Linked DNA regions of Homo sapiens: all the other regions are linked to region 1. The links come from fine-mapping of genetic effects on plasma protein levels. A gene starts in region 1. Each other region holds a variant in brackets. All regions are shown on one strand. Distances are from middle to middle.

Region 1 (4,000 bases):
ATATGTAATACTATGTATACAGTATTTTCATTGCTGGTGTAGGAGTGTGATAACTGACGGTATCATCAATGACTTTAAAATTGCTGGCTGCATTTGGACATCTGCAATAACCCCTAAATTGTTTTTACTCTCATGAAGGAAAAATGAATTTTGCAAAACAGACAAGCAAAGGAAAAGGGGTCTTCTCCATCAGCAATGAGGTCTTACTTGCTTAAGCTATACTTGTCAACTAGGTTATGTCAGGTTTCATGATTGAAATCTCTTGTGGTTAAGTCTAGTGTTAACCTAGGTAATATTTATTTTTCAAGATTTATATAACTTGCTATTTCATTCAGAGTTCAGTATTTATTTCCCCTGAACTTTTCATGGAAACTAATGATCTCAACAGTAGGAAAACAGTGTGTTCTTCCCCGCCTCCCCACCGCCCCCCCCACTTTGGCTTACGGAGTCTCAACATTAGAGACTTATTCTTAAATTTGGCACATTTTATAAAGACATATTGGGAAGGCTAAAAGTTTCTTATATCTACTCTTCACAAATGTTCAACATAAATCTCACTAGGGACCGGGCACTCCTTGCTTACCAGTCTCCCTGGGTGAACTGGTGAGAGGTGGCCCTCAATATTTTTACTTTTTATTTGGTGAAGCAGGATCAATGACAATGACTTTTGTCATGTGGTAGGCAGTTAGATATGCAGAGCTTCTAGAAATAATGCAGACTGGGAGACTGGAATGTAGTTACAAGTGTGCCAATGAACATGAGACTTTTCTGCTTGATTTTTAAGCTAAGGCTGACTTACTCTCCTGACATTTAAGGGCCTCCTCTCCAATTCCCAGTCATCAGTAAAGGATGTGTACAGGGAATGACAATATTAGAACAAAAACAACCTGCAAGTAAATCGGATGCAAGAGTCTATGTATCTTGCAAGGAAATCTTTTGCACTTAATCACAACATGGCTCTCCTCAATACTACGGAGAACAGAATTGATTCAGATTGTTTTTAAGCCTGAACGTAAACAATATTGTCGCCTTTTTGGGTTTCAGCACCTCCTTATTCATCCATTTTCTCTTTTATGGGAAGGGGGTTGATGAGGTGTGTGAAGATGATAGAACGTGCCCCAGAAACTGAACAATGAAGAGACGCCTGTCATATCGGGGGTACCTAGATTCCTCTGAAAGGAAGCCCAGCTGAAGGAGCAGGGTCACCACTTTATTTTAAAAACGTAACATGGCACATGTTGGTGCTCTATTAATCGAGCCTCGGGGGCCCAATAACGTGAGCATGGGCTGCTGCGTGGAAGTTTGAGACCCTGTTGCTGAATCCTCGGGCCTGACGGTCTATCGCTGAAGACAAGACTTCCAAAGAATCACAGTAAACGTTAACCTAAGCCATCAGAAGCCATTAACTCCGGTGACACTACATTTCAGCGAAACCTTCGCGACCCAACCCCTCGCTCCCTCTCGCCCAAACGCTGGGTCAACCCCACGAACTGGCGGTGGCAAGGCCCTGGGCACCGGTGAAGTTCTCGTGGCAGCGCAGATCGGCGACCTTCTCTTCTTTCGCGCTCAGACGGCGGCGGCAGCAGTACGCTTTCGGGCTGCTGGAGCCGGCAGCGGCGCGAGGCCGGAGCCCGGGCAGCCAGGCTGGGTGGGGGAGGGGCGGCGGCAGCGGAGCCGGGAGCGTGCGCGCGCACCTCACACTCCGCCGCCCGGGGACGCCCACTCGCGAGCCGGGGCCGGTAGGCCGGCCCGGGTCCCATCGCCCCCGCCCTCCGGTTCCTCTCCGGCGTGAGCCCAACGGGTGTCGGCCCAGCAGCTGCTGCGCTCACCAGGCCTGGGGAGGCAGGGTACGGGGACCGGGCCGCAGCCCCGAGCGGCGTGGGCGCGCTGCCTCTCTGGCAGCCGCCGCCAGAGCCAGCAGCTGCGAGCCACCGGAGGCGGCGCGGAGGAGGCCCCCGCGGCCGGGCAGGAAGGAGACGCGGCCGACCTCTGCCCGCCCGAGGCGCGGCTGCTCCCGCGCGCCCAGGCCCTCCCGCCGCTCCAGGGCTGAGTGAGGAATGAGCCGGCGCCTACCCCGGGCTCTCGGAGCGTGGGCCCCGGCTCGGCTTCTTAGGCGCGAGGGCTCGGCCACTGCGGCCGGCGGCCTAGCTCGGGGAGCAGGCGCCGGGGTTCACTGAACCGGCCGCGGAGAGGAGGAGGAGGAGGAGGAAGAGGAGGAGGAGGAGGAGGAGGAGCTCGGCGGGGGCGGCCGCCGCGCCTCCCCTCCCCCAGGACACGCCGGGGCTTCTCAGTGGCCGCCGGAGGAGGAAGTTCCGCTCCCTGACAGACCCGTGCGGTAGCAACAGCGGCGGCGGCCGCGGCGGCTGGCCGGACTCAGGTGTTTCGGACGCTATTGCCCTTCGCGCCAGCCGTCGAGTGGGCAGCAGCGGGACTCAGCCGGGCGCCAGGTTCCTGCCAGGCAGCGCCGGGAAGCGCGGGCGGCCGAGAACTCCTTCCTGCTACTTCGCCCAGCGCCGCTGCTTCGGCTTCCCAGCGAAGTGGGAGACCTTCCTCCCTGTTTGCAGACGTCCGTGGGAGACCCTTATTTTTTCCACCGCTAAGGTTAAGAGATTCTGGAATAGAAGCGTCGAAGGAGATCAAGTGAACCTTCTACAACTCCTCGGATGTCGCCAGTCTCCCTTTCGGGGCGGAAGACTACGTTTGAGCATCTCACTGAGGTGCAGGAATGGAAGAACCCACCTTGCAGCTTTTCTGCAGTGTGGCTTGCCTGATCTACCCCTAGGAATGAAGAGGAGGCTTGTAATAATCCGATGAAGTACAGATGTTGAAGAGGATATCGCAGGACCTAAACTTGTGATCGTTTGGGGGAGGTCACACACGTTTCTGAGTGGGAATGGATGGGCGTGAATGACGTGCCCTCTTAAAAAGCACAACAGTCCTTTAAGAGGAGCAAAATTGAGTTTTCCCATTTTGGCCAAGATTTTGAAGACAGTTCAATGTATTCTACATTTGACATAAGATGAGAACTTTCTAAAGTATTCTCTCCAAGAGCGTAAACGATGACTACCCCAGCCCTGCTGCCCCTCTCTGGACGTAGGATACCACCTCTGAACCTGGGGCCGCCTTCCTTCCCACATCACAGGGCTACCTTGAGACTTTCTGAGAAGTTTATTCTTCTCCTTATTCTTAGTGCCTTCATCACTCTGTGTTTTGGGGCATTCTTTTTCCTTCCAGACTCTTCAAAACACAAACGCTTTGATTTGGGTTTAGAAGATGTGTTAATTCCACATGTAGATGCCGGTAAAGGGGCTAAAAACCCCGGAGTCTTCCTGATCCATGGACCCGATGAACATAGACACAGGTTTGTTTATTTCAGAAGTTCTGGTACTAACATTTGGCAGAGCAAGGTACGGTGATTGGATCGAATCTGTCTTTTTTTTTTCTTGCAGTAAAATGTAATTTTTCGAGTCATAAATATTGTATTGTTACTTCAAGACTGGCTGAATAAAACCATAGACTGGAGGGACTCTACCTCCAGTCTATGGTAGAGTCCATAGACTGGTAGGACTGGAGTCCTACCTAAGTCGTTCTTCTCTTCGGTTTTATATAAGAAAAACATTTGCGTTCAGAGTTGTGTCTAATGTGGACATCTGGGAAGGGAGGTATGAAAACTTAACCTAAAGAAATGGTGACATAAGCTGTGCCTGCATTTATTAATAACGTGTTGGAGTCAGTCATTGTGCCACCATGTGAAATCAAAGCATCGAACCTTGACAGCTCTTTTGGGTGTGCTCTCCCAGAGGGCTCTCGTTTTCTGGCTTGTAGTTGAAGCTTAGTAGTGAGTCAGCTTTTTAGGATGACAAACGTGGGCAGAATATACCTGTCATTTCTTAACGTGAAAATATCCTGATTTTTGTTCTTTTTTTGGGGATGTGTGTTGGTGCTGTATATGAAATCAGTTAAGTTAAAAGGTATTGAATCCTAAGTTATTGCACTTTGT
Region 2 (4,359 bases), 190 kb after region 1:
CCTCAAACAATTCTATAATGATGTGAATTATGATATAATCTAATCTTTGTTATTCTTTCTTGTATCATTTAGTTTTTAATTAACATTTTATTCAAAAAGGATATGAAGTTCTTCCTATGTTTATGTCACGAATCCACTCTTTTTTAACCTTCAAATCAACACTCTGTTTCCTATATATTCAGCTATTTGGCTGTTTTTAATAATTGTTTTCATATGTAAAATTGCTCATTACTTTTTATAGCATTTCAATTTTTTTAATAGTTTGAGGGGGTACCGATGCAGGTTCGCTTCATGGATATGTTGTGTAATGGTGAAGTTTGGGTTTCCAGCGTGTCCATCACCCCGATAGTAAACACTGTACCCAACAGGTAATTTTTCAACCCTTACCCCCTCCTACTGTTACCACTTTTGAAGTCCCCAGTGTCTGTTAGTTCCTTCTCTATGTCCATGTGTACCCACTGGTTAGCTCCCTTTATAAGTGAGAGCATGTAGTATTTGATTATCTGTTTCTGAGTTATTTCACTTATAGTAATGGCCTCCAACTCCATTTATGTTGCTGCAAAAGACATAATTTCATTTTTGTGGCTGTGTAGCACTCCATCGTGTGTGTGTGTGTATGTGTGTGTGTGTGTATATATATATAAATACAATTACCACATTTTTTATCCAGTCATCTGTAGATGGACACTTAGGTTGATTCCATGACTTTGCTATTGTGAATAGTGCTGCAATAAACATATGAAAAACTATACCATGCAAACAGAAAACAAAAATGAGCAGGAGTAGCTATATTTATGTCAGATAAAACAGACTTTAAATCAATAACTGTAAAAAAGGACAAAAGTTATTATATAATGACAAATGGTTCAATTTAACAAGAAGATATAACTATCCCAAATATATATGCACCCAATACCAAAGCACCAAGATCCATAAAACAAATACTACTAGACCTAAGAAAAGAGACAGCAATGCAATAATGGTGGGGAACTTTATCACCCCACTGACAGGACTAGACAGATCATCAAGGCAAAAAATCAGCAAAGTCTTAAACTGGACTCTAGGCCAAATGGACCTACCTAATAGACATTTACAGAACATTCTACCCAACAACTGCAAAATATACATTTTTCTTATCTGAATGTGGAACATTCTGGAAAATAGACCATATTCTTGGCCATAAGGCAAGTCTCAATAAATTTTTAAAAAATCATATGAAATATCTTTTTAGACCACTGTGAAATAAAATTAGAACTCAATATCAAGAGGAGCTCTCTAAAGTATTTGAATATATGGAAACTAAACAAGTTGCTCCTGAATGATCTTTGAGTAAATGATGAAATTAATACAGAAATTAAAAAGATGGAAACAAATGAAAAGAGACACAACACACCAAAACTTCTGGGATATAGCAAAAGCAGTGCTGGAAGCTTATAGTGTTAAATGGCTACATTAAAAAGATAGAAAGACCTAAAATCAACAACCTAATGTCACACCTCAAGGAACTAGAAAAATAAAAACAAACCAAACCAACAGCTAGCAGAAGAAAAAGAAATAGCAAAGATTAGAGCAGAATTAAGTGAGGTTGAGACAAAAAAAAAAAAAAAAAAAAACATGATATGAAGGATCAATGAAACAAAAAGTTGGTTCTTTGAAAAGATAAACATAATTGATAGACCACTGGCTAGACTAGCCAAGAAAAAGAGAGAGAAGATTCAAATAAACACAATCAGAAATCATAAAGGTGACATTACAATTGATACCACAGAAATACAAAAGATCAATTGAGACTACTTTGTACATCTCTATGCTCACAAACTAGAAACCCTAGGGGAAATGGATACATTCCTGGAAATGTACTACCTTCCAAGACTGAACTAGGAAGAAATAGAAATCCTGAACAGACCAATAGCGAGTAATGAAATTGACTAGTAATAAAAAATTTCCTGACCAAGAAAAGCCCAGGGCCAGATGAATTCACAGCCAAATTTTACCAGATGTTCAATTTTTGAATAATACAAATGCATTTTGTGTTTGGGAGTACATGTTCAAGTAACTGATAGATTTACAATGTATAAAGCACACAAGTAGATTCTCACTCCAAAAGTCATCTAAAGTGACTACTGATATTTGAAGGTGAATATTCTAATATTAGCAATAATTTGAATGGTGTGGCTTATTCACATTACTGATGATTCAGCACTAATTAGATATGGTGGTAACCCTGAAGGTCACAAGATTATTGATTAGTAAAAATTTATAGATGCCAGAAATTATGTTTAAGTATGCATTTGGCTTTTTGGCCTTTTTAAGGCTGAGGCTTAATACCAAGGCCAGAATTGAACTATATGCACCCTATTCATACTATGCACCATTTCTTAGGAGGTCTTTTACCAAAACAAAAGTATAAACCAAGAAAGTGGCTTCACATCTCCTATAGGTTCTGCATCAATCAAGTTAGTACTAAATTATGCCTTGCTTTGCTTAATATTTTTATTATTTATTTTTAGACAGGGTCTCACTCTGTTGCTA[G/A]GCTGAGTGCAGTGGCAAAATCATGCCGTATTGCAGTCTCAACCTCCCTGGTTCAAGTGATCCTCCCACCTCAGCCTCCTGAATAGCTGGGACTAAAGGAGCATGCCAGCATGTCTGGCTAATTTTTTGTATTTTTGTAGAGACGGGGCTTCACCATGTTGCCCAGGCTGGTCTCGATATCCTGGGCTCAGGCAATCTGGCTACCTTGGCCTCCCAAAGTGTTGGGAGTACAGGTATGAGCCACTGTACCTGGTCACTGCTTAATGTTTGTATAACTTAAACCTACCAACCTATTAATCTCTTTTAAAACTGTAAATGTGTTGTGGGCAGAAACCTTATCTTAGTTGTGTTTTGCCTCTTTAATTTTATAGGGAAATAATGATAATTTGGTAATTTTCCTCTAAGGATTATTTTTTTATTATTATTATTATACTTTAAGTTCTGGGATACATGTCCAGAACATGCAGGTTTGTTACATAGGTATACATGTGCCATGGTGGTTTGCTGCACCCATCAACCCATCATCTACATTAGGTATTTCTCCTAATGCTATCCCCCCACCAGCCTCTCACCCCCATAACTGGCCCCGATGTGTGATGTTCCCCTCCCTGTGTCCATGTGTTCTTATTGTTCAACTACCACTTATGAGTGAGAACATGTGGTGTTTGGTTTTCTGTTCCTGTGTTAGTTTGCTGAGAATGATGGTTTTCAGCTTCATCCATGTCCCTGCAAAGGACATGAACTCATCCTTTCTTATGGCTGCATAATATTCCATGATGTATATGTGCCACATTTTCTTAATCCAGTCTATCACTGATGGGCATTTGGGTTGGTTCCAAATCTTTGCTATTGTGAATAGTTCTGCAATAAACATATGTGTGCATGTGTCTTTATAGAATGATTTATAATCCTTTGGGTATATACCCAGTAGTGGGATTGCTGGGTCAAATGGTATTTCTGGTTCTAGATCCTTGAGGAATCACACACTGTCTTCCACAATGGTTGAACTAATTTACACTCCCACCAACGGTGTAAAAGCGTTCCTATTTTTCCACATCCTCTTCAGCATCTGTTGTTTCCTGACTTTTTAATAATCACCATTCTAACTGGTATGAGATGGTATGACCTTTTGGTTTTGATTTGCATTTCTCTAATGACCAATTATGATGAGCTTTTTTTCATATGTTTGTTGGCCGCATAAATGTCTTCTTTTGAGAAGTGTCTGTTCATATCCTTTGCCCACTTTTTGATGGGGTTGTTTGTTTTTTTCTTGTAAATTTGTTTAAGTTCCTTGTGATTCTAGATATTAGCCATTTGTCAGATGGATAGGTTGAAAAGAAGAAGATATGTAATTCAGGAAACAGTTTCAACTTAAGAGACAGAAGGAGAAAAACTCAAAATGACGGTGAAAGGAGATTTCAGGATAACAGCTGTGTACGAAGTATAGATGTCAACCAGTCCAGAGTGGAGTATGGTCAAATGGATCCAGAGATAGAGCTCCAGGAAGTGGAAAATGATGGAATACCCTCATTTATTTGAGTGATTGAGAGGAGTTTTCAGTGGATAGGTGAAAGCTGGGGTTGTATCAGTGATAAGTGTATAGAAAACTATATGAGATGCAAGCTCCCTACATCTCTTGTAGCTATTCTTGAAGCTAGGCCAACTAGCCATTCCTTCAGAGTTTTTCTCCTTCCGTCTCTTCCAGGGTTGGATAAAACACTACAGCACAGGGTGTGAGATCTAGGATCTCAAGTGGGCAGCCCATGAAGGGACTGGGTTAATGCAATCTAGAAGTACAAGGGAATACATTCACATGAGATGAATTTT
Region 3 (4,359 bases), 120 kb after region 1:
GAGCATCTTGACAAATAATCATTGTATAACCACAGTTGACCCTTGAACAACACAGGGGGGTTAGAGTCACCAACCCCTTGTGTAATCAAAACTTCACATATAACTTTTGACTCCCCCAGAAGTTAACTACTAATAGCCTACCGTTGACCCAGAAGTCTTACCAATAACATAGTGCATATTTCGTATGTTATATATATTATATACTGTATTCTTAAAGTAAGCCAGAGAAAATAAAATGTCATGAGGAAAATCATAAGGAAGAGAAAATACATACACAGTACTGTACTGTGTTTATTGATGTTGTAAATTTATGTTGTCTGTTTACAAGATGAATAGTCTGTGTCAAATGGTGGCAACTACAGTGGCAAACCTCAATCTACAGTACAAATCAAACAGTCCAACTTTTTGTTGTAATATCATGACTTTTCGCTGCTTCTTGGGAACACTTTCAGATTGCTAGTGGCACTTCATATGGGTCCCATGGTGTTTTTGAAGGTTTACACTACTGTGCCAAACAATGAAAAATATGCAAGAACCATGAGAAATCGCTTTTTACTGCAATATGCAATTTACTGAAGACACGGAGATGATTAGTGTCACAAGTTGTTTTAAGTGGATGCTCTTAACACTTGAGTTCACTGCATAGCAAAAAGAGGTGTCTGTGAAATTATTACAGTAGTAAAGTATGTACTGCAATAAATCTTACACATTTATGATTTAATACTGCATCTTTACATTTGTTTACATTTCTCTTGACTATCAATGGCACCATGTATGTCTGTGTATATGTAAGTTTTAATACATTTTAACTTTTTATAATAGATTTGTATTTCATGATACTAAATGGTAAAATAGACTAGTATCTACACATATGTTATTCATTCGTGACACACTCAACTCTTTCTTAATATTTTCTCTATTTCTAGGCCATGTGGCTTGTCTATATGTTTTTCCACATTGTTGCAAATCTTAAAGATAATTTCAATATATTTATTTTTAAAAATTCACGTGTAAGTGGATCCACGCAGTTCAAATCTGTGTTCAAGGGTTAAATGTTTTATGATTTTTCAAAGGTTTTTCTGTGCAACACATTTTAAAAAGGTTTTCTATGTAAAATCATCTTGAATAACAAAGTGGTTATAAACTTACAAGTTCCATGCCATAAATAAATACAGGAATTAAACCAAGATTCCTTTAGCTTCCATGTGCTTTGGTTTTTATTCATGATAGGACAAACAATGGGAGCAGATTATGAGACAGAGGAATAAGAAGTTAAGCATGTATAGTATTAACTAATTGCAGTTATCAAAGAAGTAGTGAACTTGATAAGGTTATAGTAGTACTTCTGCTTCATGGAAGAAGATTGAACTATAACGTCACCACTGTGGCCATTCATCTTTCTTGAGACCATAATGAAATGAAAGTAGATAAATATTTATAAATAGGCATAAACTCATAATAATAAAAAGATTTGAAGGCAAGGGGGAGGTAATAATGGACAAGATATTTCAACAAATTTGCAGAACATAGAGTGGCTGGGAATGGCTACAGAGGGACTACAGGAAAGGTAACTGATGGAATCCCAGAGAGATTTTGGGTTCATAAACAATAGATACCAGTAAACAAATATATTCAAAGTACAGCAAAAACCAGATATTTATTCAAGGTCGTTATGTGGAACATGGGCTCTACCTGAAATCCTTATGTTCCACCTCCATCCCTGGTATTTACCACTAGAATAACTATACAGCCCTCTTTTTTAAAAAATCACATGATTTCATTGAGGAAAGTTAAAGCTTTCAATATGGATGTTAGTTTCCCAAAATAAAGTCTCCCTTCATTGTGAAATTTAACCAGGTCCACAGTCCCTCAATATCCATTCCTGATTCTGAAACAAAGCCTACCAGTTAGCCCATCCTTCCTCAAAGTATTCTACATAGAAAGCAGCCAGTCAGTATTCCCACTCAGGGGATAGAATTAGTGACAATTAGGTCTACTCAGTGGAGGAACACCTGCTATTCAGTAGAGGAAACCCACACTAGCTACCCAGAACTTTATTCTTAAGCACGGATAATTAAATAATGGTTGACT[A/G]CTACAGTGGGATAACATACAGAAATGCAAATAAATGATACATAGTTACATATAACAACATGGTTGAATCTTGAGCTATAGAAGCTGGACATGACAATACGGTTACATTTAATTAATATATTAAATATACCAATAGGCAAAATAAGCTCATAGTACTTGGGAGAGGGTATCAGATGGTAAATGTATTAAAAATTCAAAGAAGTAGTTACCCCAAAAGTTAAGATATTGGTTACTTTTTTGGTGGGTGGGAATTATGATTTTGTGGGATACATGGAAGGTATTGTTCTGACTGTGGGTTATACAAGTATTCTCTATAATAAGGAGAACATTTATGTTTTATATGCTTTTCTGTATACATGTTAAATTTCACAGTAAAAATATAGTCAAAAAAGGGATCCCACAGGAGACAGACAATTCTATAAACATTTTTAATTCTCCACTTTAGTCAAATAACTCGGAGAAGTTATATTCATAGAGTAAAAATAGGATGCTATGAAAAGGAAGCAATTAGAGAATGAAAAAAGAGTTCAGATTAAAAGTATGATTGCTGACATTAAAGCTTCAGTGAAGAGACTAAAGATAAAATTGATTTAATAAAGTTCCTGGAATATACAGGGAGAATAAAGGACTAAAATTTGAGAGAAAATAATAGAAACTCAGTCCAGGAGGTTCAATTTCCAATTAATGAGCGTTTCAGAGGAGATAACTGAGAAAGTGGAGTACAGAAAATATCAAAGAAATAGTAGAAAAGATTTTTCCCAGAGCTGAAAGATACTGATCTTTAGTTTGTACCTAGCACATTGTACCTAGCACAATGACTGTAAGAACAAACAAATAAAAAAAAGACTATACCTAAATTTAATCAGTGTTTAAGTGAAGATTCTAAACCTTGGAGAAGAGAGCTGAGTGTGAGTAAGTAAGATTGGGAACATATTAAGCCTATTAAAAATAACATCAGATTTCTTATCAATTATACTGGATGTTAGAAGGTATTGGAATGGTACTTTCAAGAAGCTCTGGGGGAAAATTATTTCCAACCTTAAATTTGATACCCGTATGAAATAAAATTAAGTGAGAGAGCATAGCAATGACATTTTCGGATGAAAGGGTTTGCATCCCACACACTTTTGTGGGAAGTTATTTCAGAATGTGATTCAGTAAAACAGGTGTAGACAAAGACTTAGGACTGAAGAAGCAATAGGCATAACTCTGGAAAGCAAGAAAAGAGAAGTGGCAAGATGACAGCTGTGGAGTATCCCTAGAAAATGACCAGATTGGGAGGAAGGTCTCTAGCGGAGTAAGGAGGGAGGGGTGACTCAGTATAAGTAACATGGTTGATAGGCTAGGATACAATAAATGATTAGGGAAAGTGATGGGAGACAATAGGAAACCAGTTAGAAAATCTGGAGAAAACTAAAAGCTATACAAGAAAGTCATAGTTAAAACATAAGGACAACTAAAATGTAGCATGATTTTACGCAGTTGATGTCTAAGAAAAGACTGGGCAGCTGATAAAATGGTAGCGTCACTGAATGAGTCAAGACATTTTAACATAACCGCAAAATAGATGTTGTAATATTGATGGGAATATTTTGTCATAGTTGTTTTGATATATACATATTTCAAAATAGTTAAAATGTAAAATCACTGCTCTCTTGTTTATTACCAAAAAATGTGCTGAAAAGGTACCACTAACCTTTACCCCATCCCAAATGCCCATTAAGTATAAGGGACTCTCCCTATCTACTCTATTCATTTCTGTATTGTTTTAATATTTTACAAGTTATGTGTTAACTTTTATGATTTTTTTGTGATTATAAAATGTGTCAATTTGTTAGAATTAATTTAGCTTCTAACTATAATCTATTGTATAAATCCATCATACATTACCATCCTTATAAAATTATTAATGTAAGTATGATGAGTATGGAAAGCTATTCAAAATTTAATTGTGAATTTCTTGTTCTATCTGAAATGTAGAATAAGACATCTTATTATTGCCCTGTCTTCTACTCCTCCAAGTGACTTCTGTAATACCCAGCCACTTAATGTTTGACATTCAGGAAGCTTTCATAAAGCAGAGGTGTCCTTTTAGATATTTAGATGGAAAATAAAGAATATCATTAATCTTAGTTGAAAGCAAATGGCTTTTTTTTTTTTTCTTGAGACAGAGTCTCACGTTATTGCCCAGGCTGGAGTGCAGTGTTGCAACTTCTGCCTCCTGGGTTCAAGGTATTCTCATGCCTCAGCCTCCCAAGTAGCTGGGAT

Which allele goes with the higher level. Positions count from the first base shown, and alleles are read on the strand shown. Strength reflects both the effect of a copy and how common the allele is.
For the plasma level of the protein whose gene starts at base 2,325 in region 1, allele G in region 2 goes with a lower level than allele A (moderate association).
In carriers of allele A in region 3, the plasma level of the protein whose gene starts at base 2,325 in region 1 tends to be higher than with G alone (moderate association).

The links. PIP is the posterior inclusion probability: the model's chance that the variant is causal. The UK Biobank Pharma Proteomics Project read protein levels with antibody pairs (Olink). The fine-mapping took linkage between variants from a reference panel, not from the people measured, so its PIPs are less certain.
Region 2: its variant is fine-mapped to the plasma level of the MAN1A2 protein (UK Biobank, PIP above 0.99).
Region 3: its variant is fine-mapped to the plasma level of the MAN1A2 protein (UK Biobank, PIP 0.90).

The regions. Positions count from the first base shown.
Region 1 is chr1:117,365,125-117,369,124 of GRCh38, forward strand. It overlaps MAN1A2 (mannosidase alpha class 1A member 2), which reads left to right and starts at 2,325. Exons shown (of 13, transcript NM_006699.5): 1 at 2,325-3,361. The coding sequence starts at 3,060. RefSeq lists a silencer at 1,561-2,380 and an enhancer at 3,251-3,390.
Region 2 is chr1:117,551,474-117,555,832 of GRCh38, forward strand. No RefSeq gene overlaps it. Among named protein-coding and RNA genes, the nearest start is that of TENT5C-DT, 52 kb to the right of the region's middle. The variant G/A (reference allele first, on the strand shown) is at 2,533.
Region 3 is chr1:117,483,975-117,488,333 of GRCh38, forward strand. All of the region lies in intron 8 of MAN1A2 (mannosidase alpha class 1A member 2), which reads left to right. Among named protein-coding and RNA genes, the nearest start is that of MAN1A2, 120 kb to the left of the region's middle. The variant A/G (reference allele first, on the strand shown) is at 2,092.